Linked DNA regions of Homo sapiens. The protein of the gene in region 1 purifies or fractionates together with the protein of each later gene. This does not show direct contact. Each region holds a gene or a part of one and is shown on either strand. Other genes may lie near its edges.

Region 1 (4,306 bases):
TTTTCTCTCTCAAAATAAGTGAATAAATATAGAAAGAAAGATTGCCAGTAAGACTTCCAGGAAGTGACTTACTAAATTTTCAACATACGGTTTTACTTTCAGAAAGGCCTCACTAATATGTTAGTACCATACATTAAACTACTTTACCTGGCTTAAATTTAAATCAGCCATGAACATGATGATTGAGCTCTGATTCCACTCAGGATCCCAGAAAAGAGAAAACAGTATGTAGAGAGACTCAAGCAGCCTACTCTGCCTTAATTTGGAAGACTGACTCCCAAAACTTGGAATCAGGACACATGAGACCCACTCCCAGATCTGTTGATGAATACTGTAGGAGTCAGGAAAAATACACCTTACTGCAATAAACATCTTCAAAGTTAAAATGGATTTGCTCCATTGCTTTTTATAGCAAAGGCTGGCAAAGAGTATATTACAAAATGATCTCACGTGTGATTACAACTTATAATCAAAGATCAGTTAAATACCTCAGATGGGGGGCGGGGGTGTTCCTGAAGTCTATTTCCTCAAGTAATGTTAAAGTGAATGGCCTTAGATTTTGGACACTACTTTAATTTTGTACTTCCAAATGCTTAGGAAATGTTGCATTGGATTCCAGAAAGTCTCAGGAGGCTGTTTCCGTGATCTTACCTTTCCATCACCATCTCTTATCCTTTTCCCCAACCTTGCGTCCCTGACCCCCTGCTTTCCCTTTCTACCCAGGAGTTCATGCACTGGCAGGGTGCTATAGTTAGGGTGAACAAAGGACCATTTTTCCTAGTTCATGTCTGTTGTTCTAGCATAATTAATAACACCCCTTTCAATCTCAAGAGTGTTCTAAGTATATAAACACCTTAACTACTATGGAAAGGGCCTGAGATTTGGAGTCAAAAGACTGGGTTCAAGCTTTAGTTCTGCCCTTAAAATTGCATAATCTTAGGGCAAGTTATTTACCCTCTCTGAATCTTGTTTTCTTTCTCTGAAAATGGAAATGATATCAAATTTCCAAGTTTACTGTAAGTATTAAAAAGAAGTAAAATCAATCGGTACATAGTTATTTTATCCATAAGAAACCAGAGCCAAGCAATTGGCCCTCTCTTGAATATTGTTACCTTGCCAACTTGGAAGCAGTCATCCCCTGTGAGAGAAAAGAGCCGTTTGGGGCTGTACAGGTCAGTGATGGCAGAGCCAGTGACTCTCTGAAAGACACCTCGGGCCAGGCCTTTCACATTGAGCATGTACACGTCCTGCAGCCGCATCAGGGCCCTTGCTGCTCCCTCAAGGTCCTCAAAGGCTGGAAGGTCTTGCTCCACCTTCTCATAGCCATCCTTCAGAGCTGTAAAAGTAGTAAAAACATCAACCCAGCATTCAAGAAACAGGAGTTGGGCATTTAATACATGTAAGGCATGACCACCTGTTCAAATATTTAATGACATCAAGTTGGATTTGTCTTTGTGTTCCCAGAGGCAAGCACAGTTCCTGGCACAGGGTGGATGCTTAATGCAATTCTGAATGAGGAACATTCAGAATGAGTGAATGAGGAATAAAAATTAAGGCATACAGCTTCATTATATTGTCCTATCCTGTATGTTTACAGGAGTCTCACTCTTTAGGGAGACAACTCTTCTTTTTCTTTTTCTTTTTTTCTTTTTCTTTTCTTTTCTTTTTTTCTCTTCTCTCCTCTTTTCTTTCTTTTCTTTCTTTCTTTTAATAGAGATAGGATCTTGTTCTGTTGCCTAGGCTGGAGCACACTGGCATGATCATAGCTCACTATAATCTTGAATTCCTGGGCTCAAGTGAGCCTCTCACCTCAGCCTTCTGAGTAGGCAGGACTTCAGGCACACGCCATCACATCCATCTAATTTAAATAAATTTTTTTGTAGAGACAGGGTCTTGCTATGTTGCCCAGGCTGGTCTCAAACTTCTGGCCTCAAGTGATCCTTCCAACTCAAGCTCCCAAAGTGTTGAGATTATTGGCATGAGCAACCACACCCAGACTCTTCTCACTGTTAGCTTTCCAAAAATCAACAAACTTCTTTTTTTTTTTTTTTTTTTTGAGACAGGGTCTTGCTCAGTCGCCCAGGCTAGAGAGCAGTGGCGCAATCTCAGCTCACTGCAACCTCCACCTTCTGGGTTCAAGCAATTCTTGTGCCTCAGCTTCCCAAGTCTACAGGCATGCGCCACCATGCCTGGCTAATTTTTGTTATTTTTAATAGGTTTCGCTATATTGCCCAGGCTAGTCTCGAACTCCTGAGCTCAAGCAATCTTAGCCTCCCAAAGTGCTGGGATTACAGGCATGAACCACTGTGCCCAGCCCAAAAGTCAACACTTTTTTTTTTTTTGAGACAAAGTCTCGCTCTGTCACCCCAGGCTGGAGTGCAGTGGTGCGATCTTGGCTCACTGCAACCTCTGCCTCCCGGATTCAAGCAATTCTCCTGCCTCAGCTCCCGAGTAGCTGGGATTACAGGCATGTAATCCCACGACTCCCCGGTAATTTTTGTATTTTTGATAGCGACAGGGTTTCACTATGTTGGTTAGGCTGGTCTGGAACTCCTGACCTCAAGTGATCAGCCCACCTCAGCCTCCCAAAGTGCTGCAATACAGGTGTGAGCCACCGCGCCTGGCCGTCAACAAACTTCTTACAGCACAAAGTAGAATAAATTAGGAAAGTGATCTTGCTATAGATGACACTGTAGTGACAATTTAATGAAACAGAAACTACTAGAAGACCGTTATTTTCTATACATATATAAATGGAAGGCTTGTACTTTGTCACAGGATTGTAGTGAACATCAAATGAGACAATTGATATGAAAGTGCTTTCTAAGGTATAATCATATAAACTGATTAGCAAGCGGGCCTAATTCTTTGTGCTAGCTAGAGCTAAGGATATTAAGTAATACCCACCTACTCCATTACCCTTTGAAATCACATCCCAACAGAATCTCTCTCCTTACCACCGAGTCAGGAGATAGAATCTTCTCTCTTACCCTCCAGCCCTCCTCCTCATTACCTCGGATGTTCTCACTGGCCTCCAGACTATGTACCACATTCCTCCAGTCAGACTGCAGGCGTTTGATGAGAGTAAATGCAAGCAGAGGGTTAGCCACAGGGGTTGTTGAATCCTCATGCAAAGAAAGTACCTTGTCGTAGAATCTGAAAGAAAGGAGTAGAATGATCTCACCTCCTGATACAACCACTACACCTAGGGAAGGCTGGCATGGTGTGTGTACATTAAGAGTAGCTAACACTGACATGCTGAACCTCTTGAGATTCACATAATAGTCCAACCAAAAAGCCATGCAAGCCCAAAGAATATGAAAACTATAGATACAACAAAAGTAGGTCCACTCTTTTGTTCACTGAATGAGTCAGTCTATATTAATCAATTACTGTATTTCAGGCACCATGCTAGAGATATAAAGGCAAGACAGGGTCCAGCTCTCAAAGGGATCACAAAGTCTTTTTCTCCTGTCATCACTGTATATGCAATACTTAGTATCTGGTAGAAACTCAAAAACACTATTGAATTAATTATAACCACTGTGATATGTGCTATATAGTGGTCCCCAACCTTTTTGGCACCAGGGACTAGTTTCATGGAAAACAATTTTTTCCACGGACCGGGGGGTTGGGGGATGGTTTCGGGATGAAACTGTTCCACCTCAGATCATCAGGTACCAGTTAGATTCCTATAAGGAGCACACAACCTAGATCCCTCACATGTGCAGTTCACAATAAGGTTCACGCTCCTATGAGAATCTAATGCCGTGGCTGATCTGACAGGAGGTGGAGCTCAAAGAGTAATGCTCCCTTGCCCACCACTCACCTCCTGCTGGGGGGCCCGCCTCCTAACAGGCCATGGACTGGTACCGGTCCCTGGCCCAGGGGTTGGGGACCTCTCTGCTATGAGAGAAGTGAGCATATAATGCTGCAGCTGTGCAGGCAGGGCAGCTCATCCAGGTGGGAGTTAGAAGGGGGAAGGAAAGGCTTCCAAGAAGAGATGGCATGTGATCTGAATCTTGAATGATTTGTTAAAATACTGAAAGCTATTACTTATTGAGCTCCTACCATGTATTGGCCTGTTGGGTGCTCTAAATAGATTGTCTCATTTAATTACCCCCCACCTTCCAACCGACCCTTAGTGTAGATTTAATTTTACCCATTCCACAGAGAGGAAACTGAAACAAAGCCACACTGTTAGTAAAGGGCAAAGCCAGGATGGAACCCAAGTCTGACTAACTCCAAAACCTGGGTTCGCAGCTGATTATGCTATATGGTTTCTTAAGGAGCTAGAACAAAGAAG
Region 2 (4,306 bases), on another chromosome or scaffold:
CCCTCCTGGTCTGTGTCAGTATTACCACCAGACTGACTCCAGGACTCACTGCCCTCCAGAAAACAGAGGTGACAAATGTGAGGGACACTGGGGCCTTTCTTCTCCTTGTAGGGGTCTCTCAGAGGTTCTTTCCACAGGCCATCCTCTTATTCCGTTCTGGGGCCCAGGAAGTGGGGAAGAGTAGGTTCTCGGTACTTAGGACTTGATCCTGTGGTTGGCCACTGGCCATGCTGCTGCCCAGCTCTACCCCTCCCAGGGACCTACCCCTCCCAGGGACCGACCCCTGGCCCAAGCTCCCCTTGCTGGCGGGCGCTGCGTGGGCCCTGCACTTGCTGAGGTTCCCCATCATGGGCAAGGAAGGGAATTCCCACAGCCCTCCAGTGTACTGAGGGTACTGGCCTAGCCATGTGGAATTCCCTACCCTGACTCCTTCCCCAAACCCAGGGAAAAGAGCTCTCAATTTTTTATTTTTAATTTTTGTTTGAAATAAAGTCCTTAGTTAGCCACTTGTGTCATTTCCAGGTTTTCTGGGGGAGTGCAGGGGGAGATGGGTGATGAGGTATGAACGGATGCCTCAGTGTCCAAGATACAAAAGGCACTACATAGAAGTTTGCTTTTTCCCTGCCTGTCTTGGTCACTACCACCTCTTCCCTGAGAAGGGCGGGCCTTCCATGTTCTCTCACCCGCTTCAACTCCACATTGTCCAAGTCACAGAAAAAGAGAGGCCTGAATGGAGATTCGACCACAAACAGTTTTAATGGTCTGGTTTTCTCCCTAGTTCCCCAACTGTTTGTTAGTATTATTATTACTACAAGAATAAAGGATTCCTGAGAGCCTGTCCCCTCCTCTCCTGTGGCCCCCTTGACAGGACTCATCCCTACCAACCCCCCACCCCCCCGCCCCGGATTTCTGGGGAAAAAAAGAAGTGAAAGGCACTGCAGGGGTAGGGGGCTTGAGTGCCAGTGAGTTGGGGTTGGGCGGGGGCGGGGGCGGGGGTGGGCACTAGGGCAGGGCCCGGCCTAGAGGAGGAAAGTTCCAGTCCATGCCTGAAGGAATTGTGGAGAGGTGTGTCCATCCATGACACCCCCATCAGTCCTTCCCTGAACCTGTCTAGCAGGCATACCTAAGTCCCATCCTCCCACCCCCAGGCCCACACTGGGGGTTCTGCAGCAGGAGCATAAAATTAATTAGTGTTGGGCTCAGAAAGGAGGAATGGAGGGTCCACTCTACTAGGACTCCAGGGCCAAACCCAAAGGGAGGTTGCAAATAACTAGAATAATCCTCAAATGCTCTTCTTCTTCAGGTTGGAGAGACAGGAATTAACAAAATATTAATGTTAATGAAAACTCCCCAGCCGAGGGATCAGGCAGCAGTAGGGAAAACCAGGCTCCAAGAGGAAGGGGCTGGTCAGTCCCAGGCCTTGGAGACTAGTTGTCCCCAACAGCCCCCTGCCGAGCCCTGATGAACGCCATGCCATGCGTGCGGAAGTGGGTCTTGAGGTTTAGAGGGCTGTCGCAGCTCTTGCCACAGACCTTACAGGTCAGTGGGCCTCCAGAAGCAGGCAGGGGTGAGTCTCCACCATCGGGGTCAGACCTTGATGGAGGGGCCTCTTCCTCCCCATCCCCCAGCCCCAGGGCACTGGCTTTACCCACACCCCGTCTCTTCTTGTGGCTGATGAAACGGTGTCGGCTCAGGGAGCCAGGGGAGGCAAAGCACAAGCCACAGTCGAGGCACTGCTGGGCACCATCCTCCACCCTCAACCCCATCATGAGGCTCTGTTCTGTGGAGCTGCTGCTCCGGTAGCGCAGAGGGCCATGGCCTCCAGATCCAGGTCCGCCCCTGGGGGACTTGGCTGGCGGTGTCGTGCTGTCAGGCTCCTCACTGCAAGAGTCAGAAGACTGGCGGCGTTTCCGACCTGGCCCCTGAAGAAAAGTGGAAGAAACTGGGCCTTACCACCACCCCTACTGTCCCTGGCACCCCCATGCTCGCTTCCTGAGGCCATGGTCTCTGCCTTCCAGTTTCCCACTCAAAGCCCTAGCACAGCAGGCCGGGCCTCTGCCTACCTGGGCTCTGGCACTGGAACCCCGAGCCAAGGTGGTCCCCCGGCCAGGGGACTGGGCCCCAAGCTGCAAGCCGTGCCGGACCTGGACATGTTTCTCTAGGATCAGGCGGCTGCTGAAGGTGCGTTTTCCCTCTGTGCAATACCTGAAATGGGAGAGGACAGGATGGCAGCAGCGGCACAGCCCGAAGGCCAGGGCCCTTGCTTCTGAGGAGGGGGCTGCCAGAGCAGAGGGAGACCCCAACCATCAGGCCACTTAGACACGTCGCAGGTGCACAGGTACTTTGGCATACAGGGAGAGTCACGTGCTGGGCAGGAAGAGGAAGCGGGGAGCAAGACTTACCTGCAGGGGTAAACTCGCTTGATGCCCTCGTGATTAACTCTGACATGGCGCCTCAGGCTGGGGGCGGAGCAGAAGGAGCGCTCACACAGGCGACAGGGGAACTTTTTCACTGACTAGGAGAGCAGGGGTAGATGTCAGAGCCAGGCTCCAGGACCCCGTCCCCACTGTCACACTGGCAGTCCCAATGCTGCCCCCAGCCCATGGTACTCCCCTTGGGGCCCACTCACCTTGCCATGCTCCTTCTTCATGTGGGCCACGTATTCATCACGCTCAGGGAACCAGGAGTGACACAGGCCACAGGTCCAGCCTCCAGGCCCCCCACCCCCACCCTTGAGGCCTTTGCTCCCTAGTTCCCGCCGAGGCCGTTTGGCTGGACGGGGGGGCTCAGGGGAGCTGGGTACTTCCTCCTCTTCTGAAGATGAAGACGACTCCTCAGTAGCAGGGGCTGCCCCTCCCTGAGAAACAGCCAGCTCCTCAGGCTCAGTCTTGGGGGTCAGCAGGGCACCCCCGGCCCCTTTCCCAGCAGTCTCCTCCAAGCGCCCAGACTGATGGGTGTTCTGTGAGAGGAGACAAGGGAGGTTGCTGTTGTGGGGGAGGGCCTGGCTATGCCAAAGCCCCCCACTTCTGAAGTATGTGGCCCCAGCCCCAGGTCAGTACAGCTAAGCACCCATTCCCCATCCCTCTGCTCCTGTACCTTGAGATGTTCCAGCATGGTCCTTTTTTGGGCAAAGAGCAGAGGACAAGACGGGCACTTAAAGACACTGACACGCTGGGGCAGCAAGTGCTGGTCGAAGTGTGAGGAGAGGAGGGGTTTGTGAGTGAAGACTGTGTCGCACATGGCGCACTTGTAGATCAGCCTGAAGTGAGGACAGTGCAGACATCAGGCAGGGTTGGGTGCAGCCCCTCCCCTCCTGCGCCCCACCAGCCCTCCCTGGCCCAGCCCGGCCCTCCCCCGGGCCTCACTTGGCCTGCTGAGTTTGGAAGCTGGGATGCTGGGAGTAGAGGTGGGCATGGGCACTTGGCCCAGACTTGAAGGCCATGGGGCAGATGGGGCACTTGTGGAAAACCTCGCAGTGCGACGTCTGGATGTGGGACTTGATGGAGTTCACACCCCCAAACACCACTGAACAGCTGGGGCACCTAGGGAGGAAGCAGGAGGCCCTGTGGTGAGGTGGGAGGCATCTCCATGCCCACCCCGGGACCATACATTTATTCTCTGGGACTGGGTAGACTACAAGAAGGAAATCAGTAGTGGAGCATGAGCAGGGTGGAGAAAGGAGAGAGGTGCAGAGGCTGTGCCCCAAGGGAGGCTGCCAAGGGAGAGCTGGAGCTCCAGAGGTGGCCCTGCTTCCCCCCATCTCCATGGGGGACGACGGGAAGGCAGGACGTACTATCTCAGGGTTGAGTCTGGCAAAACAACAGGGCTGAGGGATATAGCAGGGAAGATAGGGGATCTTGAAAGGCCATCTGAGGCTGAGGCTAGGACACACGAAACCCTACAGTTCTATGGAGGAAGGGTCCGAGGCACCTGTATCCTACACGGCGAGAGACGTGCAGACAGGCCTCCCGGAGATGGGTCTGAAAATTGGCTTGCAGGAAGTTGCCCCCACACTCAGGACAGACATGGGGGGGTCGATTCTTATGCATGCGCTGGTGGGCGCTGAAGCTGCAGCGATTGGGGAGCATCATGGGGCAGGTTGGGCACACCTGTCGAGTGGGTTAAACAAGGAAAGTCGGTGAGGAGTGTCCTGTCTCCATTACTTCTAACCAAGCCCCCAACGCCTTCCTAGATCCTGTCCCCACAGAAGGGCTGTGAAAGGTGACTCACATTGCTGGTGGCCCCAGGGGCAGGGGGGCCGAGCTGCTGGAAGTGAGCTGCCATGCCAGCCTTGTCCCGGCACTGT
Region 3 (4,306 bases), on another chromosome or scaffold:
AGTGAGGGCAGGATGCTGCTGCGGCAGTGGGCTGGCTTCCCCTCGCCCCAGTCCCGCTTGTTTATAGAGCCAAAGAGGGCGGGGGGTGGGACTGGCACGATGTGCCCTCAGTGGACAGGCCCACGGTGTGCATGGTTAGCATTCCTGCCTGAATGGGCCAGGCAGCGAGTCATGTTGTCCTACTGGGCCGAGGGGTGGGGAGAGAGAAGGAAAGAGGCACTAGGTATTCAAGGGCAGGCCACGATGCCCAGTCCTGGGGCATCCCAGAGGAAGGTGACATTAGACAGACCTCTACCCAACACTGGCTCTGCCAGGCACCAGCTGTGTGACTGTGACAAGTCATTTAACCTCCCATGCTCAGTGTCCTCAACTGTAAAATGAGCTGATCAGAACCTGCTCACGGGGGCTGTGAGTACAGTGCCTGACCTTGTCATATGCAAAGACAGGAGCTCTCAACATCTAGCCCTCCTGACATGTGGGCAAATACCATCCCGATGTTAGGGCGATGGTCCTCCAACAAGAGCTGGCACAGGGCCCATACTGTCCCCACTGGGATCTCCATGGGTGCTCAGACTGCCCGGGGAGTCACTGCTACTGCTGACTCCACACCTCCAGGGTCTTGGCTGAGATGTCCATGCCCTGGACAAGGACTCTGCAGGTTGGTGGCAAGAGGAGCTGGGGCCACCCCCTCTCGGGGCAGGGTTCAGGCAGGTGTGCTCCCTGCGAGAGCCAGGGAACTGGTGGGAGTGGCTCTTGAAGTGCTGGGGAGGGAAGGAAGGCCTGTCATGGGTGGCCCCTGCCTCCTGCTAGAACCCACCCTGCAGGGAAGGAGTGGGCCTGGCTTGGCCAGGCTGGGCAGAGTGCCAAGTGTGCTGGCCCAGGCCTGCCCCCCAGGCTCTGGTGGACCCCTGAATACCCCAGTAGCCTGGGGAAGACAGGGCTTCATTCCAACAGGGAGGGGAGGGACCAACCTGGCAGTAGGGAACATGGCACAGGGAGGGAGGGGACAGCTACATTGAGGGCCAAACTGAAGGACACTGTGCCACAAAGGTAAAGACAGAGCCAGGGAGGGACAAAGCGCTAAAGGGGTTGTGGCCACTGGGAAGAAACACAGACCTCCATTTTCCTCCAGTCCCCTTGGAAAGTCCTTGTCATACAGAACCATTTGAGGCAGTAGAAAGAAGAGGGGCTCTAGAAGCGGAAGTGCACAGTTCAAATGCTCACTCTGGCTGTGTGACCCTGGCCTGCCACGGTACCTCTCTGAGCCCCAGTGGAGACAATGCGGTCAGCAGGGAAGAGACACAGAGCACCCTTCAAGCTGCCCACTCTTCCATTAGCCCTCCTCTTCCAACAGCCTGGACAGTTTGGGATGAGGCAGCTGGGTGGCGGGATGCAGTCCCTCCCGAGAGGAGCAGGACAATGTGACAGGCAGGACAGGAACAGGGCAAGGGCCAGGCTGGGTGGCTCCGTTCTTTTCAGAACAATAGCCGGAAAGGCGGTGGGGAAGAGGCTCAGAGTGACCGGGCTGGGGACCCTGGCAGGAGGGCAGAGGGTCCAGGTTCCTGGCAGTGACTCCAGGCACTTCCCCTGCGGTACAACCTTCTTCCCGGGCCTGGCGCTGGGGGTGGAAGGGTGGCTCCTGATTTAGGCTCCCGGGCAGAGGATGTGAGCTCAGCCGGCCGCCCCAGCACACCCCATTTCCTCTGGCCAAAGAAGGAGATTGTTCAGAAAAGGGAGTGGTGCGGCGAGGGGCGGGGAGCAGGGCCAGGGCAACTGTACCCCTCTTCTCTCAGCCACCTGCTCCCTGAAGAGGACCCGGGTGGGGGCAGGGAATTGGCCTGATATCAAATGCAGGAGGCTGAGGGAGCATCTCCCACCTCCCTGTTCTCTCTCTGGATAGCTATAAAGCGCCAGCTAAACCCCAGAAGAAAAAAGGGGAGTCCTGACGCCTCCCTTTTAGCAGTTTCCCTTGCCTTCTTACGATATGGAGCAAGAGTCCCCAGCCTCACTTCTGAGAACTGCAGTAAAATCATGGGGAGAACTTTCTGATACACAGAGTCCCAGGCCCTCTGTGATGAGTCTGATTTTGAGGGGAGTCCAAGGAGTCTACACTTTTATTTTTACTTATTTATTACTTTTTGAGACAGGGTCTTGCTCTGCTGCCCAGGTTGGAGTGTAGTGGCACGATCTCGGCTCACTGCAGCCTTGACCTCCCCGACTCAAGCGATCCTCCCACCTCAGCCTCCTGAATAGGCGGGACTACAGGCATGTGCCACCATGCCCAGATCATTTCTTAATTTTTTTGTAGAGATGGCATCTTACTATGTTGCCCAGGCCAGTCTCAAACTCCTAGGCTAACTAGGAGTCCTGGGGGACTCCTTCCTGTGCACAGGGCCAACAGGACTATAGGTGTGTGCCATCATGGCTGGCCCAGTCTGCACTTTTGAAACAATCCCTAGGCCAGCATGGTGGCATTGCCTGTAGTACCAGCCACTCAGGAGGCTGAGGTGGGAAGATGAGGCAGGAGGATCACTAGAGCCCAGGAGTTCAAGGCTGGGCAACATAGCGAGACCCCATCTCTTTCCCTGTCCTTTTTTTTTTTTTTTTTTTGAGACAGACTCTTGCTCTGTTGCCCAGGCTGGAGTGCAGTGGTACAATCTCAGCTCACTGCAACCTCTGCCTCCCAGGTTCAAGCGATCCTCCTGCCTCATCCTCCTGAGTAGCTGGGACTACAGGCACTTGCCACCACACTGAGCTAATTTTTGTATTTTTAGTAGAGACGGGGCTTCACCACGTTGCCCAGGCTGGTCTCGAACTCCTGACGTCAAGTGATCTGCCCACCTCGGCCTCCCAAAGTGAGACCCTATCTCTTTAAAAAGAAAAGAACAGAACAATCCCTAGGTAATACTGATGGGCAGCTGAGTGCAGAGCACAGGGGACAGGGTGCAGCTTTGCCTCTGCTCTGCCATGCTATGGCTGTGTGACTTTAGGCAAGTCACTAACCCTCTCTGAGCATCACTTTCCTTATCTACAGAACGGATATTGAAATACCTATCTCACAGGCAAGTGAGGAAATTATAATATTTCATACACTATAAGGTTTGCAAATGTCACCTTGTGATCTCACTTTTGTCACCAGCCTCTCCAGCTTCTCAGAGGACTGGGAGGGGAGGCACAGTGCCAGGGCCTCATAAGGAATCCCAGGCCCCAGTCATGCTGTGCCTGAGCCTACAGCCTGCGCAGGGTGAATTCTCCACTTTGGGACTGAGGGAAGGGACCTCCTTCCCCACAGACGCTTCCCACTGGGCACAAGGGAACTTCTCGGAGCCTAAGAGCCCAGCTCTGCAGTTCCCGCCACTGGCCTCCAAACCCCTCCCGCCTGCCCTCCTGAGGGCCTCACTTTGAGGACCCAGAGCGGTGAGGCCAGCAGCAGCTTGACCAAGGCCCCACTGGGCAGGTTGCCAAAAACAACACAGAGGTGACAGAAGAGGGGAGTGGCTGCACTGCTGGACCTTAGGGCCCTCCCCTGGGACCTCCTTAGCACCTCCCCAGTGGCACCCACCCTGTGTCCACTTCCCTAGGCACAGAGACCACCCCACAGCTCCACCTCTCCAGGCCCTGCGTCTCCTGCCCCAGTGTGCTAGTGGATGCATGAGGTTAAGGCCCTTCCTCTGGCACCCATACCCCAGGTGTTCAGGTAGCCTGGGGGACTCCTTCCTGTGCACAGGACCGAGGTGTATCTTGGGGCTAGAGCCCCTGAACTCCAGAGGAGACCTTCCCATCCAGGGAACTCCTCCTGCCTCAGTCTGGTGGCAGGAACCACCTCCTGCCTATGCTGATCTGGGATCTCAAGGTGACAAGTCCAGCGGCCTCCTGGGACAGCCCAGAGAGCCCTCCCTGAAGCCCAGAGGTCTATTCTCCCTGTGGGGGGTCGCACCACAGAGGTACCCAAGACATGGGGCTCAGGTGTGGCCGCTTGTGCATGGATCCCCCACAGCCCGGTCAGGTCTCGAGGCTAGGTGAAAATCTCCAGTAAATGAGCTCTGGCCACACCCCACCAGGACACACATGTCAGGGGAAGAGAAACTTTAGCAACTTGTTAGAGAGTGTTGAACTTTTTTTAAGCAGTAGAATTCCCTTTTTAAAAGCTATCTCGTGGCCTGGTGCGGTGGCTCATGCCTGCAATCCTAGCACTTTGGGAGGCTGAAGCGGGTGGATCACCTGAGGTCAGGAGTTCGAGACCAGCCTGACCTAGATGGTGAAACCCCGTCTCTAGTAAAAATTAGCCAGGCGTTGTGTCAGGCAC
Region 4 (3,432 bases), on another chromosome or scaffold:
GGCCTCCGGAGTAGCTGGGATTACAGGCATGTCCCACCATGCCCAGCTGATTTTTATATTTTAAGTAGAGACGGAGTTTCGCCATGTTGGCCAGGCTGGTCTTGAACTCCTGACCTCAAGTGATCCAACCGCCTTGGCCTCCCAAAGTGCTGGAATTACAGGTGTGAACCACCAGGCCTGGTCAGTTTTCTCATTTTTTTTTTTTGGAGGGGAAGATATAATGTAGTTTGTAGGCAAAAATTACAGTAATATTAATGATAATAACGGTCTTAATAATAGAGTCCTGGGATGGTTCTACTGCTAGCCACCTGCTGGGAATAGTTCTTACGACACACCTGGGGCAGTGTGGCACAGTGCAAAGATACAGAAGCATCTGGAAGTTCTGGGCCCAGTCAACCCTGGCTGGGCAAAGAACATTCTCTTGGAGTTTCTGTCCTTGTAAAGGAAGAAGTCAGAAGAGACACTCCTGGTCTCTTTCTTCATTCCGTCTGTGAACTCGTGTGCTGAGTCCCTCGGGCCTGGGGCAGCCTGGGCCTGGGGCAATCCCTGCCCGCAGCAGACAGAGCCCCTTTTCTCTCTGATTTACCTTTCCTGGGCTTAGAAACACAATTAGTTGTGACAAATGACCAACGCCACCAAAAAAAAAAAAAACAAAAAACAAAAAACAACAACTCCACGGAAGCGGTGTAGACATATTTTCATTTCTTTATTAGAAAGAGGTCTCTACACCATAGCCACCTCTCTCTGTTACTTTACACATCTTTCTTTTTCTTTTTCCCTTAGAATACTGTACAGCGGACACAAAAAAATCCCAAGGCAGGAAAATACAAACTGGCATATTTAATCAAAACAAGATCATATGAAATAACAAGCAAAGTGAAATGTCTGTCAATGGTTTTAATTACAGTACAAACAATATAAATAAAGCATCATTGAGTCATTGTGAAACATAAAGTTGCTGAATGAGGTAATAGAAAACATCCAAAAAAAAAACCTAAACCCATCTGTGGATACACCCACGCTGCCCTTCCATCTCTATACACTGCTATTTACAGAAACAGAAAACTGGCTGCAAGGTGGGTTGGCCTTCCCTGCCCCTGCCTAGAAATGCATCTCAGTTGTCACCTTTGAGCTGCTCCGGCTGCCCTTTAGGAAACGCACCCCTGTGGCAAGATGAGAACCAAATTCCAAGCTGGCAGAAGGGAAGAGCCAGTGCAGGAGACCTGCCCCCGGGACCCGTGCGACCCTCCCCTCTCCAGGCTGAGCTCAATAAGGGCCTCCCCAGCGCTCAGGTGCTCGGGGCTGAGAGGGGCTGCAGTCTGGAGAATTAGATGTATTTCAGACACAAAAACCCAGCCGTGGGAGGGAAACTGATGCTTTTCAAGTCTGCAAGAAGGAATTATTTCTAACGTTACAGTGCTGGTCCCTCTCCCCCCGTTCTTAACGCCACGAAGCAGCTTCTAAATGCACACTTTGCCACCCACCATGCAACTGCCCCACCCCTCTCCAGCCACCTGTGTACCCTCAAAACAGCCATGCTGAGAGCCCTGCTGGGACCCTTGGGGCTGGGTTGGGATGGGGGAGGTCCCTCGTGCCAACCTGAGCAGTGCGTGAGACCCACTCCCCAGACCAGCCCCTGGCTCACTCCCAACACCCTTGGAGCCTTCTCTGTTCTCCTACCCTGAGAACCCAGGCAGGAAATGCATTTGCCCAGGGACCTCCAGGAATGTCAGGGGACACCCCAGGGCTGTGGTATTGGGCAGGGGGCTGGGCTGCTTCCAGTGTCTGCATGAGGCCCATTAGGATTCCATGCACCTGGACTGTCCTTCCTCAAGTCCAAAGGCCCCTGACATCCTCATGCCCAGCTGCTGACCGAGTGGGCTTCCAGTGTCTTCTGTTTACCAAAGCTCTCCAAGCGGCTCAGACGTTAGCTTCCTGGGCCAGTGTAGACTGTTCAGCACCAGGGAGATGAGGGTTTAATTGGATTTAGGGGCAGCTGTTCCCAACAGCTGGTGTGTTAAGGGGGTTTGCTCCACTGGGAAGATTCCCCAACACACTCATGCCTTGTTTGGTTCCTTTCTTTCACCTGCATCTCAAGGCAAAGGCCATGCAATCCCCCCACGGGGCATTCTAGATCAGTCCGATGTGGACTTCGACAAGGAGTCTCTATCATATGGTTTCACCATCCTCAGGTTGGGGGAGTGCTCCCTACAGGTACCCTGTGCCAGGCCAAAATGAAAACCAAGCCCTGAGCCAGCCTCTCCTCACATTCATGAGGATATCCTGTTTGGGGCACATGGAGCGGCTGCCCAGCTTGGGCGTCCCAAGGTCGGATGCCACAGCTGCCTGCTGGTCTCACCTAGCAGCCTTAGGCCTGAGCTCTGGGGCTTTCAGAGCCCATGCAAGTCTCTGCTGGCCACTCTGGCCCCATCTGCCCACCTCCAGGCCCTGAGGCCCATCTGTAGAGGGTGAGGACCTCAGACAAGAACAGTTCTACCCAACAGGTGCAAAACCCCAAACCAAGTGCTGTCATTTTACACCAAAACCAGCATCTCATGGTGAAAGACAGTAAGAATGGGTTTTCAGATTTAGGTTTGCTTACCGCTGCTCTGGGGTGGGTGTTTACTACACTGGTGAACTTAAATACTTTCTCATACAACTCAAAGATTTAAAAAAGACTTGTTGGTTTCCCAGAATCCCTTTCCAGAATCACCTGCCAATGCGGACATGTGACGCGAAGAAAGCCGCAGACACACTGATTAAATGGGGGGGCCATTAATATTTCAACAGTCTATTTAAGGGCAGTATTTCTTCTCTAAGGGGAATAAAGTTTGTGTTTTGAAACAGTAATATCTAAGTAAATATTTCTTTCTTCATGGAGAGGGGAGGAGTCTGCCACAGGGGTTTCTGTCTAATCACAGACGGGACACTGGCCACTTCTCTCTAATCACAGACAGCGCAGCATCCCAGGGGCCAGCGATCCAGTTCACTCTCTGCCTGTGTCGGAAGGACCAGTCTGAGGACTGTTTCTTAGTGATCCAGCTCCAAGGTGTACTCTAAGGAGATACACCTGCGCCCCTTCTCTCTCCTGCATAATGGGAGGAAAGCTGACATTTTGCTGAAAAGCAACCTAATGTATGTGGTTAAATGATAGAGGGCCCGTCCCCACAGCAGGGCTGGGGCAGATCTGTCCACTGGGCAGGGCAGGGGGGTCTCCTGGCCCCACTCGCTATCACCTGAGCGTGCTGGCCTGGCCTGGGGGCATGGGGAGCAGCATTAAAGACACATGACCACAAGGGCTCCCTGAAGAAAGCCACTCAGAAATCCAAGCGCAAGCCGCGGAAAGGTGGAGAATGCACGCATTGATGCCAAAGGCCCTTATTTAGCTTTTTGGGGAAGGATGAGGGTGACAGTCATTCAAGATGTGACTTC
Region 5 (3,960 bases), on another chromosome or scaffold:
CATCCTAAACGCTAACAAGAAATTCCATGTGCAGTTTTCTTGGCCCCCACGGTCACCCGATGGCCTGGCCTCCATCCCCAGCCTCCAAGGCACTGGTCTCGGTTAGGGAAAATGGAGGCTGTCTCCTAATGACAATGCTCTGGCCTCTGCCAGCGCCACATCTCTTTCCAGGACATGTTCTTTTCCTCAGGGAAAACCGGGAAGTTGGGTGGCTTGGAAAATGGGGTCTTCTGGCTGGAGCCGCAAGACCCCTCTGCACCCCATCCTGGACCCTAGTGAAAAGCCCACCTGCACCCTCCCACTCACCCAGCTCCCAACAAATCCAGCCCAGCAGGGAAACAAGGACACCCCATGCAAGGCCCACTAGGGCATCAGCCCAGGAGGATGGCCCACAGTTGCGGCTCCCAGGACAGAGTGGCTCCTGGACACTGGACTTTCAGTTTTAAAAAACCAGAACAGTCCAGGCACAGTGGCTCACACCTGTAATCCCAGCACTTTGGGAGGCCATGGGCAGATGACCTGAGGTCGGGAATTCAAGACCAGCCTGGCCAACATAGCAAAATCCCACCTCTACTAAAAATACAAAAATTAGCCGGGAGTGGTGGCGGGCGCCTGTAATCCCAGCTACTCGGGAGGCTGAGGCAGGAGAATGGCGTGAACCCGGGAGGCAGAGGTTGCAGTGAGCCGAGATCGTGCCACTGCACTGCAGCCTGGGCAACAGAGCGAGACTCCATCTCAAAAAAAAATAAAAATAAAAATAAATAAAACCAGGACAGTCCCAGGCAAAGCAGGACAAGTTGGTCACCCTACCTCTGAGGCTGCATTGGTGACAATGTGCTGTCGCTACAGAGGGACAACAGGGGGACAACCAAGAAGCCGGGGGGCAGGGCCTGCTTCTGCCCACGTCTTCAGTTGTGGAACCCTTCCAAGTACAAAACACAAAGACTCTCCCGCAGGGGCTTTCCCTGGGACAAAGCTGTCACTGAGTGGTCACCTGGAGCTCAGGAAGGAGGAGCCAAACCAGGAAGTTCTCCTCTGCTCCAAGGGCCCTGCTTTTTGGCTCAAGCTGTCCCTGACCAGGTCTTCACAGGCCTGGGAACTGTATTTCAAAACTTGTGTGCCACAGACCGTCACCTCTGGAGTGGAGAGGGTGTCAACTGGGGAATGAAGAGAGAAGCTCAAAAGGCCCCAGACTCAGTGCCTGAGTCGCCCAGACAGATGGGGTCCTTGGGGGTGGGGGTGGGCGTCATGCCCCTCCCATGCCCCAGAGCTCCCAGTCCTCCTTTCCAGGCCCGACCAGAACAGGGTCCCCATTCCTCCCTCCTACCGATTTAAAAGAAGCCCTTTCAAGGAGTTAATTTCGGACTTGAGTTCGTTGATATTCTGGGACTCCAGGATCCAGTTGGTGGATGTGGTGGCCTGAAAGCAGAGCACAGGGAGGCTCAGGGCGGGCGCCTTGCGGCACGGGCGGGGCCTGCGGCTGCAGGAGGACCTGGGTGGGGGCAGCAGGTGGGGCCTTCTGGGTCTGTTCTGGGGAACCCGGGGGAAGGTTCTGCCACTGCCCACTGCCTGCCACGTCTCTGGATGACAACATCCTTAAACATTCCCACAGCTCTGTTTGGACATCTGATGACGTAAGGAATCATTACGTGTTTTTAGGTGACATAATGGTATCGTGGGCGTCTTTTAGAGACATGCGGAGGCGTGCGGGTGCGGTATGAAGTGGGATGATGTCTGGGATTTAAGATGGTCCGGGGTGGAAAGAGGAAACAGCCACCATCTCTGACAAACCCCATCCTTCCATGCACACCTTTCCCCTTTGAAGGTAACACTGTTTTCCAAATAAACTTCACAGAACTACATCTTACTTCTGGAAAATCTTGCTGGTATAGACGGGGAAGAGGACAGCCAAACCAGAGGTCCCCAAATGCGAGCTGCTGGTGGCAACCTGCTTGTGGCATGTGCACAGAGGACAATGCCACGAGGCCTCCGTGTGAGGTCTACCTCGCCCAGGCTGAAGGCCACCCCAGGCCATCTTTAAGTGCACAGATGAATATTGCCAGCTCTCCTGATACTGCTCCCCCGAGGTGGGCAGAGGGGACGTTCCCTGGCTGTTCCCTACCAGTGTGCTGTGGGCCGCTGGCTGGCTTACAGAGGCCTGGCCTCTGACGTGGGGTCGGGGGCTGCTGTGGGCTCACCCCAGCAAGCAGTCCAGCTGGCACACCTTAGCAGGGAGAAGTCCTTCAGAGGGCCTGTAGGTCTCAGGAAGGAAAACCCGGGCAGTCTGAGAGTGAGTGCGTGTCACCCACCACCCCCAGACACAGCCCCTCAGGGTTCCTACTCCAGACCGCCAGACAGGGAGGACCCAGGAGCCACGGCTCTGGCTTCTCTGAGACCTTGAAAGCTACAGCAGCCCATGAACAAGGGCACAATTTCCACTCACTGGCCTACAAGGGACTCAGATTTCCAAACGCATATGGTGCCAGATGCCAGGATTTAGAAATAAAATCTGACATCTGGGGCTTTTTAGCCAGCCTCTTTAAAAAACAGTTGTAGAAAACTCATAGCCTTCAGTTTTATGTAGGTTTTTTAATTACTTAAAGCTCTTCTTTTTAATTTTTTACAGTGCTCCAGTAGGAGTTTGGAAGCCAGATATAAAAACTTACATTACAGCTGAGAAAACACAGCTCTGGGTCTTTGGTTTATGGGGTAACCAAAGTCCTCACACATACGCGTTTAGATGCCAAGCCAGTGGCCCCATGCAGCTCGGGAGAGAAGGCTGGGGTGGGCCAGGGACAGCGGCAGCAAAGCCAGCTCGAGGGACTCTGAGGGGCCCAACCCCTCTCACCACCAAGCACATCCCGGGCCCCCACTGCTTCTTAAACACAACATGTGGTCTTAATCTCAGGCGTAAGGCCTGAAAACAGTTTTCCAATTTCCGGAATGGCTTCTGGCCACAGGCAGAGCATGGATCCAAAAGATGACCTGACCCAGGAGAGCAGGCAGGGCTGTCGCTGGGCTTCCTGGTGCTTTAGGGACCGGCCACCCGTGGAGAACACGCATTGCAGTGGCTGGAGGTGGTCACCAGTACCCACAGCCATCCCAGGAGGAAGAGCAGGTGGCACCTCTGTGTGTGGTTTGGATATCCAGGGGGGAGATTCCTGGGACCCTCTTCACAAGAGACACCCCAGACTCCATGGAAAGATTGTCATTTTCATGGTTTTTGCAAATGCAAAAGATCTGAGTGCTGGCTCAAGCCAACTCGTACGCTAGGAGTGGCTTTCCCTGGGTAAGCAACTCGGGATGGGACTCTCCAGAGCCCAGGCTGTGGGGGCAGACAGGGAGCAGTGTCCGCCGGCCACAGAGCTGTGGGACAAGGGACAGAGAGAGGAGCCAGTGGGTGTTCTGGAGCTACCAGGCCACTGTCTCCTGGGCCCGGTCTGTCTGATACCGCCTCAGGGATGACCTCTGTTACCCACCCACAGAACCTAGGCCTGCAATCCTGCGAGCTGGCTGGAGCCAGGCACCCTCTTGAACCCATGAAGAGCCCCAGGAATTAGGTGCCGTTATGGCTCCATTTTACAGATGAGGAGACTAAGACTCAGAGAGGTTAAGTAACTTGCCTGTGGTCATACAGCTAACAAGTGGCAGGACCAGGATTCAGCCTGATCCTGGAAGCTGCCACGCCAAGATTTCTTCACATTTGGGCAGTGAGGCAAGGACACTGCCTTGGGAGTTGGTTCTGGCTCCCTAGGATTGCCAGAACCCATGGAACCTGAGTCTAGAGAACCTGCCCGCTGCACTGCGGTGTGGATGGGGCTGGTGCTGGTGAACTGACTGCGACTCGCTTCTCCCCTGTCTGTTCCAGAACCCCTCCTGGCCATGCTGTGACCTGCAACCTAACTTATAGGTAGAGACCGTCCCATGTCTACACAGAAAGCCTCCAGAGCTGCGGGGATG
Region 6 (4,306 bases), on another chromosome or scaffold:
GAACACAACTGAATTTGTTTGTTACGACAGGATTCACTCCTGTCACCCAGACTGGAGTGCAACAGCATGATCTTGGCTCACTGCAACCTCTGCCTTCTGGGCTCAAGTGATTATCCCACCTCAGCCTCCCAAGTAGCTGGGATCATAGGTGTGGGTCATCACCCCAGGCTAATTTTCATATCTTTTGTAGACATGGGGTTTCACCATATTGCCCAGGCTGGTCTTGAACTCCTGGGCTCAAAAAATCTGCTCGCCTCGTTGTGATTACAGGTGTAAACCACGACACCTAGCCAACAACTGCATTTTAATAGGCCTATTCATACCTGCACTTCGCAAGAGATTTATCAATCACGAGAATACCTGTGAATGCTATTCAAGTGGTTAGGTGTGTTCTTCATACGTTAGGTAATGACTAAAATAATTTTACCATAATCTATAAATAGAATTGTGACTCACAATTTTAATACTCTCTTACTGAGGAAGATAAACAGACTCTCTGAGGGTCCTATTAAATTTTATTCAGGATGATGGTCACCTACCGACTCCTACTCCTTGTCCTACTCCTGCTTCTAGTCCTATGCCTGTGTCTTGATCTTGAGCGGGAACGAGACCTGATCCGCCGTTTTCTTTCCCTGCTTCTGGATCTCGATTTCTTCCTCTCTCTGCTTCTGGATCTCGATTTCTTCCGCTCCCTACTCCTGGATCGAGACTTCTTCCGCTCCCTGCTTCTACTACGATGGCGTCTGAAATTAAAGTGCACAAATTTGTAATTACTTAAAAGTTGTGTTGTTTCATTTATACACATCATGAATTAGTTACTTGTAGTAACGCAATAAAGACAAGCAAGTAACTGCACTATATTATTTACAGAAATAAGCGAGATTTTCAAAGGAAATACTAACTGAAAACGAACCCTTCATTTTGTTTGATAATTTGTCCTAGAACATAGTAAACCTATTAACATGTCAAAAGCGTTCAATGCATCCTACCCAAATTTAAGCTTCCGTTTAATACTCTTCCCACAGTAGTTACAAATCTTAATACTTTAGTTTATCTACTAAAAATTTTTGAGTCTGATACCACACACAACCCACAGAATTCTCCAAAAAAAACCCCACCAAAAACCATTCACAAATTTGAGCTGTGATCCAGTTTCTCAAAAATCTTTTTATCTATACTCCAACATTAAAAAAAATCTAGATTGCAGTTTAGCAGCAAACACCAACATCACCATCGATGATGCAAAAGGACTGTTTATCAGCTTAAACCACACAGTTTAACAATATGATTTTTTCAGTGCCAGACAGATTAAGTGGTTAAAAATCTCAGCTGGGCAGAGTGACTCACTCCTGAAATCCCAGCACTTCAGGAGGCCAAGGCCGTCACACTGCTTGAGCCCAGGGATTCGTGAATAGCCTGCACAACATGGCCAAAACCCGTCTCTACAAAAAAATACTAAGAGATTAGCTGGGTGTGGTGGCGCATGTCTGTGGTCTCAGCTGCTTGGGAGGCTTGAGGTCAGATCACTTGAGCCCTGGAGGACAAGAGGCTGCAGTGTGCTGAGAGCACACCACTGCACTCTAGTTAGGGCAACAGAGAGACCATCTCAAAAAAGAAAATCTAGGCTGGGCACGGTGGCTCACACCTGTAATCCCAGCACTTTGGGAGGCCGAGGTAGGTGGATCACCTGAGGTCAGGAGTTCGAGACCAGCCTGGCCAACATGGCGAAACCTCATCTCTACTAAAAATACAAAAACTAGCCAGGCATGGTAGCACATGCCTGTAATCCCAGCTACTTGGGAGGCTGAGAAAGGAGAATCACTTGAACCCAGGAGGCAGAGGTTGCAGTGAGCCGAGATCATGCCACTGCACTCCAGCCTGGGCAACACAGCAAGACTCCGTGTCAAAAAAAAAAAAGGGAAAAGAAATCTAGGCACTTGAGATTTAGTCATCCCTTACACCCCATTCTTGGAAACCATTTTTGCATGATGAGAAAGCAAAGCCCAAAGGCAAAAAACAAACAAAACCACAAACCCAAACAAACGAACAAGAAAAACTCCCTAATTATGATTTTTTTGGGTGTTGCTGGGTCAATGAGAAACTTTATGTAACTTGTTAGAAGGTACTACATTATAATACAACATGACTTACCTTTCACGAGACCTAGATCTTGAGTGACTTCTGCCTCTTGATGACTTTCTTTCTTTGCGTTTGTGCCTGTCCTCACCATTTTCAGATGAATTTAGTCGCTCTCTTCCTTTATCAGAAGAATGTTCTTTGTCATTATGTTCCTCAGACTTATGTTTCTTAGAGGATTTATCTTTGGATTCATGTCTTCTTCCCTGTTTTAAGAAGAAGTTGGTTCTTTCAGGAAAATAGTGCAACAAAGAGAGTTAGTATGGGTATCAGTAGACAAAAATGTTGTGATGCAACATTAGTAACCTTAGGAGTGTGTGGCAAATAAAAAAAAGATCTAGTTTCACATCACCCAAATGTTGCAGATGTAATTACTATTTTTTTTACTATAAACACCCAAAATGTAGTTCCTCCCCAAAATATTTTCAATACAACAGAAACAATGATTTTTAAAGTTGAAATATTGAAAAGCCATTATGCCAGACAAAAGAGGAATCCCTTATGTTTATCTAAAAGAATACAGACCATGTATATACATCAACTTCTAAATCCAGATTACATAATGTTAAGTTTAAGTAAGTAATGGAGATAATGACACAAAAAGTGCACCAGAAACGCATTTCAATTAGGTAGCTAAATATAATTATTACTAAGTACTAATATTTTCTATAATTTCAAATTATTTTACACAGAGATGCAGTGTCCCTTTTACAGTTATACTGCCTGCTACATCCTCTAAAAGACAGCTCTTGATTTTCCTCCCAATGTCTAAACTGTGAAGCAATCACTTTTCATCTTGCAGTATCCCAATAGGCTTAGAGGAGTATTACACTTCATGTACCTAGGGTAGAAATGGCAACTGTATGTTTCAATTTTAAAGAAACCAAACTAGGTATAACAATCCACATGCCATCACACAATACATACTGCCCCCACACTTTAAAAAGACCAAGGCCTTCACATGTGCATTCAGAGACTCAGCTCAAATTAACTGCATGATCAAGTCTCATCCTACCAAATACCAAAGTAGAAGTGCTACATACTACAGTTCCCTACAGGAAGATCTGTCAAATTCATCTTGTAGTGAAAGTTTAAAATCCTAGACATCTCTGAATCACTAAATTTTAATTCTGGAAGGAAACTAAGATCCTCTAACTTAATCCCCTTATTTTATGTATAACTAAGATCTAAAGTTACAAAGCTACATGGGTGAGCTGAACCTTCCCCATGTTTTTCTGATGCCCACGCTACCACTTTTCCACTGTAATAAGACACTACTGTCTCCCAAAAGGCCATAGCATGTTTCTTTCCACTCACGATTAATGTTTCTTAAAAATAAAACTTGGCCAATCATTTTGGAACATGCATGATGATTTATCTGAAAATGATCATAGTACATAATTTATTATTTGCAGAAAAATAAGAGACCTGGAGACACAATTAAATTTTAGTTTCATTGCCAGTTCTCTATAGGAGCTTAGAAAAGAAATTTTCCTTGGTTTTGCTATAACGAGGCAGACTGGAAAAGTCTTAAGTGGTTAAACTTCTAAAGGTTTTAAAGTTTATTTCAAACCAGTTTTTCAAACATAACATTACTATTAATTTAAAAAAAACATTAAAACCCTTAACTGATTTAAGATATATTTAAGGGAAATAGGAGTTTGAATGACTAATAGTTACCTTATCATGAAGTAGGCTTATTATTTTGCTATCTGAGTCTGCAGCGTCTTCAGTTCAGTCTCTTCGCGCATAAGCACGCTGAGTATGATTTATTATAGAAATGTTATCATGTGAGCTAAACAAAATAGTCATTTTCACAAAAACTCTCCTAAATTAAAAATTTAACAGAGCTTCCATTACGGGAAGAGGTGAAGTCCCTGCCCACTCTTGTTTTAGGAGTCCCTTACCCAGCCCCCACAAGACTCTTCTCCCTTTCTGGCTACTACTTCTACACTTCCTTATTGGCTCATTCTTTGTCTTCTCAGGTGGGTGAACAAGTAACTCCTTTGCAATACAGCTGCTGCCTTTCTTTTTCCTCAAGTTTTGGTGTCACCGCCACCTTTTCAGCTGTCCCTCACTCAAACCTTTATTTCAAAATTCAATACTACTATTAGGGAAACTGAACTAGTTTGCAAAAGAAAAGAGAACTCCTGTTATCGTTCATAAGGAA
Region 7 (4,306 bases), on another chromosome or scaffold:
GGCCTGAGTCCCCCGGGGCAGGCAGACCCTCCTTATCATGCGTGAGGCTCCAAGGGCTCAGAGATGACTTCCCAGGGGCAGAGGGCAAAGCCAGGCCTCTCTGGGCAGGTTTGGTTTCTTGACCACACAGCAGGCAAGGGCCGACTCACGTTCTGGGTGAAGTCTTGGTGCACAGCCACACCCACCCACTCATGTCACCTGGGGCTGACACTTGCCACCGTGATGACCACAGAGGGCCCGAGGAGCTGGAAGTGTTGACTGCCTGGCCCCGTCAGGGAAGTTGCCAGCCTGGCTTAGAGTCCTGTCGGGGGATGTGTTATGTGAGCTGCACATGCCATCTTAAGTGTTCTAGTCAGCACGTTAAAAAAAGGCAAATTTACTTCATGGACCCCAATGTGTTCAAAATACCATCCTTTCAGTAGTGGCACTCTCCCATGGCTGGTGGCTGCTGTGTGGGGCCTGGGTGATGAGCGGTGGGCAGCCACGCAGAGACCTCTGAGAAGAGTGGTCCAGGCCACGAGAGCAGCCAGTGCAAAGGCCCTGAGCCACCTCGAGCGGCACAGGGGCCCTGAGTGAGGGGGTGTTTGCGGCCAGGCCTGAGTCCCCAGTGGCAGGAGGGTGAAGAGTCAGAGCAGTCGCGTGTTCCTCATAAGTGCGTACCGAGTGCCTGCTGGGTGCTGAGATGTAGCAGCAGAGAGGGGGCATCTCGGTGAGGCAAAGCGAGCAAAGCCTTCAGTCCATGGCAGCCGGGCGGCCTTCCTTCCTTCCAGAGGGAGCAGCTCCCGTCAAGGCTGCCAGTGGCCTCATCCGTCTCCCTTCTCATGCGGCCCGACCAGCCCCCAGACACTCCCCCCTCTTATTGTCTGGGATACAGCTCGCCCCTCCTCTGCTCCTGCCTCCTGGCACCTCTGTGCTGGCTCTGGCTTCTCTATCCTCGCCCTCCTTCCGGGTCATTGTTCCCAAAAGTGGGTTGTAACAAATCACAAACGCAGCGGCTTACAAATCACAAACGCAGCGGCTTAGAAATCACACAAGTCTGTTACAGTTCTGGAGGTCAGAAGTCCAAAATGGTTTGGTCTCATGGCCCAAAATCGAGGTGTCTGCAGGGCCACGTCCCTTCTCAAGTCTCCAAAATCAAGGTGTCATCTGCAGAGCCACGTCCCTTCTCAAGGCTCTAGGAGAGAATCCGTTTCCGGCCTTTTCCAGCTCCTAGAGGCTGCCCGCATTCCTCGGCTCATGGCCCTTCCTCCGTCCTCAGAGTGCTGCACTCCGACCTCTGCTTCCATCCCCCATCACTCCTCCGACCTTGACCTCTGCTTCCATCCCCATCACTCCTCCGACCTTGACCTCTGCTTCCATCCCCCATCACTCCTCTGACCTTGACCTCTGCTTCCATCCCCATCACTCCTCCGACCTTGACCTCTGCTTTCATCCCCATCACTCCTCCGACCTTGACCTCTGCTTCCATCCCCCATCACTCCTCTGACCTTGACCTCTGCTTCCATCCCCCATCACTCCTCCGACCTTGACCTCTGCTTTCATCCCCATCACTCCTCCGACCTTGACCTCTGCTTCCATCCCCCATCACTCCTCTGACCTTGACCTCTGCTTCCATCCCCCATCACTCCTCTGACCTTGACCTCTGCTTCCATCCCCCATCACTCCTCTGACCTTGACCTCTGCTTCCATCCCCCATCACTCCTCTGACCTTGACCCACTTAGGTCCTGTGGTCACTTATTTATTTATTTATTTATTTTACTTTAAGTTCTGGGATACATGTGCTGAACGTGCAGGTTTGTTACATGTGCCATGAAGGTTTGCTGCACATACCAACCTGTCATCTAGGTTTTAAGCCCCACATGCCTTAGGTGTTTGTCCTAATGCTCTCCCTCCCCTTCCCCCACCCCCCGACAGGCCCTGGTGTGTGATGTTCTCCTCCCTGTGTCCATGTGTTCTCATTGTTCAACTCCCACTTCTGAGTGAGAACACATGGTGTTTGGTTTTCTGTTCCTGTGTTAGTTTGCCAAGGATGATGGCGTCCAGTTCATCCATGTCCCTGCAAAGGACATGAACTCATTCTTTTTCATTGGTGCATAGTATTCCATGGTGTACTGTGGTCACGTCTTAGGTCACCTGTGATGACATTCGGCCCGTCAGGATAGTTCAGGAGAGTTTCCCCATGTCAGTGCTTAACTCCCTCCCATCCACAGAGTCCTTGTTGCCCTGAGACAGCAGATGACAGGTTCTGGGGATCAGACCGTGTACATCTTTGGGGCCATTATTCTGTCTGCCACAGAGGCGAGGTGAATGCAAGGTGAAGTGGGGGTGGAACAGAACCAACGTGGAATCTGTGAGCCTCGGGGTTTCGCCCTTTCCAGTTTCCATGACTCCTCAGAACAGGACCTGGCACATGGGTGCTGTCTAGGTAGATTTCAGCCACTGTTACCACTCTGAGCTCATGCCATCTGTTTTGTTGGCATTAAAATGTTCTTTTAGGAAAAGATGGTAAAAGTAGGTGGTGGTTATTGTTGCTTTTAATGTATATATCTTGCAAAATAAAAAAAAATCTTCCATTCGGGGATGCAGTGAGAGTTCTGTTGGTTCAGTGAATCTAAAAGTCGGGAAATCACCAGGCTCCAGGCCGTCGGGACTCTCCTGCGTTCTCTGCTTGCTCCGAGGCGAACCTCTCACTGTGGCTCTGGGATGTCTTTAGCATCTCTCTTGTATCTGTTACTCTCTCTTTTTAATAAGGGCAGATCTCAGGTTCAGAGCCTTCTCCTATCAGTGTCCACACAGACGGGAATAACACTGCCGTGAGTGATGGAATTTCCCATGACCTCTCTCTCTGGCACATGATACTGGCTTTCCATTTCCAGCAATGATACAACATGGTCTTAAGTCAGTGTTATTTTAGTTTTAGGTAAAAGTAAAGAAGAGTAATAAGAGCCTGGGCGATAGCCATTGTAGCTGACGGTGGTGTATAGACAGCTGACATCTGGGGGCGCTGCTGTGGATTGGGGTTTCTTGGCATCTGGTCTGTGGGAGCTGACGGTGACGCATAGACAGCTGACATCTGGGGGCGCTGCTGTGGATTGGGGTTTCTTGGCATCTGGTCTGTGGGAGCTGACGGTGGCGCATAGACAGCTGACATCTGGGGGCGCTGCTGTGGATTGGGGTTTCTTGGCATCTGGTCTGTGGGAGCTGACGGTGGCGTATAGACAGCTGACATCTGGGGGCGCTGCTGTGGATTGGGGTTTCTTGGCATCTGGTCTGTGGGAGCTGACGGTGGCACATAGACAGCTGACATCTGGGGGCGCTGCTGTGGATTGGGGTTTCTTGGCATCTGGTCTGTGGGAGCTGACGGTGGCGCATAGACAGCTGACATCTGGGGGCGCTGCTGTGGATTGGGGTTTCTTGGCATCTGGTCTGTGGGAGCTGACGGTGACGCATAGACAGCTGACATCTGGGGGCGCTGCTGTGGATTGGGGTTTCTTGGCATCTGGTCTGTGGGAGCTGACGGTGGCGCATAGACAGCTGACATCTGGAGGCGCTGCTGTGGATTGGGGTTTCTTGGCATCTGGTCTGTGGGAGCTGACGGTGGCGCATAGACAGCTGACATCTGGGGGCGCTGCTGTGGATTGGGGTTTCTTGGCATCTGGTCTGTGGGAGCTGACGGTGGCGCATAGACAGCTGACATCTGGGGGCGCTGCTGTGGATTGGGGTTTCTTGGCATCTGGTCTGTGGGAGCTGACGGTGGCGTATAGACAGCTGACATCTGGGGGCGCTGCTGTGGATTGGGGTTTCTTGGCATCTGGTCTGTGGGAGCTGACGGTGGCGTATAGACAGCTGACATCTGGGGGCGCTGCTGTGGATTGGGGTTTCTTGGCATCTGGTCTGTGGGAGCTGACGGTGGTGTATAGACAGCTGACATCTGGGGGCGCTGCTGTGCATTGGGGTTTCTTGGCATCTGGTCTGTGGGAGCTGACGGTGGTGTATAGACAGCTGACATCTGGGGGCATCTAGTGGGAGCTGACCGTGGTGTATAGACAGCTGACATCTGGGGGCGCTGCTGTGGATTGGGGTTTCTTGGCATCTGGTGTGTGGAAACTGACGGTGGTGTATAGACAGCTGACATCTGGGGGCGCTACTGTGGATTGGGGTTTCTTGGCATCTGGTGTGTGGGTCCTCGCCTGTCCTCAGAGTTTTCACCGAGACATTGCCGGATGAGAAGGAGAGGACAGCCGAGGAGAGGCTCCTGTACTGGTAGAAAGCAGTAGAGCTCACCTGGAAACTTTTAAAAAATAC

The links.
Region 2: the proteins of P4HA3 (region 1) and ZNF687 purify together in Homo sapiens (co-immunoprecipitation; 3 studies listed by BioGRID and IntAct, with this or other methods). This does not show direct contact.
Region 3: the proteins of P4HA3 (region 1) and CASKIN2 purify together in Homo sapiens (co-immunoprecipitation; 3 studies listed by BioGRID and IntAct, with this or other methods). This does not show direct contact.
Region 4: the proteins of P4HA3 (region 1) and AGAP1 purify together in Homo sapiens (affinity purification with mass spectrometry; 3 studies listed by BioGRID and IntAct, with this or other methods). This does not show direct contact.
Region 5: the proteins of P4HA3 (region 1) and PEX14 purify together in Homo sapiens (co-immunoprecipitation; 3 studies listed by BioGRID and IntAct, with this or other methods). This does not show direct contact.
Region 6: the proteins of P4HA3 (region 1) and RSRC2 purify together in Homo sapiens (co-immunoprecipitation; 3 studies listed by BioGRID and IntAct, with this or other methods). This does not show direct contact.
Region 7: the proteins of P4HA3 (region 1) and ZNF444 purify together in Homo sapiens (affinity purification with mass spectrometry; 2 studies listed by BioGRID and IntAct, with this or other methods). This does not show direct contact.

What each region holds. Positions count from the first base shown.
Region 1 is NC_000011.10:74,301,257-74,305,562, forward strand, and holds part of P4HA3 (prolyl 4-hydroxylase subunit alpha-3 isoform 1 precursor), read right to left. Parts: intron 3,157-4,306; coding exon 3,014-3,156; intron 1,337-3,013; coding exon 1,113-1,336; intron 1-1,112. UniProt on the Homo sapiens protein: Catalyzes the post-translational formation of 4-hydroxyproline in -Xaa-Pro-Gly- sequences in collagens and other proteins.
Region 2 is NC_000001.11:151,288,331-151,292,636, reverse strand, and holds the end of ZNF687 (zinc finger protein 687), read right to left. Parts: coding exon 4,231-4,306; intron 4,110-4,230; coding exon 3,931-4,109; intron 3,543-3,930; coding exon 3,366-3,542; intron 3,260-3,365; coding exon 3,097-3,259; intron 2,960-3,096; coding exon 2,630-2,959; intron 2,516-2,629; coding exon 2,403-2,515; intron 2,206-2,402; coding exon 2,064-2,205; intron 1,923-2,063; coding exon 1,428-1,922; 3' UTR 461-1,427; downstream 1-460. UniProt on the Homo sapiens protein: May be involved in transcriptional regulation.
Region 3 is NC_000017.11:75,508,469-75,512,774, forward strand, and holds part of CASKIN2 (caskin-2), read right to left. Parts: intron 1,423-4,306; exon of another isoform or gene 1,257-1,422; intron 1-1,256.
Region 4 is NC_000002.12:236,129,049-236,132,480, reverse strand, and holds the end of AGAP1 (arf-GAP with GTPase, ANK repeat and PH domain-containing protein 1), read right to left. Parts: 3' UTR 688-3,432; downstream 1-687. UniProt on the Homo sapiens protein: GTPase-activating protein for ARF1 and, to a lesser extent, ARF5. Directly and specifically regulates the adapter protein 3 (AP-3)-dependent trafficking of proteins in the endosomal-lysosomal system.
Region 5 is NC_000001.11:10,624,731-10,628,690, reverse strand, and holds part of PEX14 (peroxisomal membrane protein PEX14), read right to left. Parts: intron 1,420-3,960; coding exon 1,328-1,419; intron 1-1,327. UniProt on the Homo sapiens protein: Component of the PEX13-PEX14 docking complex, a translocon channel that specifically mediates the import of peroxisomal cargo proteins bound to PEX5 receptor.
Region 6 is NC_000012.12:122,516,688-122,520,993, forward strand, and holds part of RSRC2 (arginine/serine-rich coiled-coil protein 2), read right to left. Parts: intron 3,895-4,306; exon of another isoform or gene 3,825-3,894; coding exon of another isoform or gene 3,817-3,824; intron 2,365-3,816; coding exon of another isoform or gene 2,343-2,364; coding exon 2,152-2,342; intron 744-2,151; coding exon 540-743; intron 1-539.
Region 7 is NC_000019.10:56,147,740-56,152,045, forward strand, and holds part of ZNF444 (zinc finger protein 444), read left to right. Parts: intron 1-4,306. UniProt on the Homo sapiens protein: Transcriptional regulator. Binds to the 5'-flanking critical region of the SCARF1 promoter.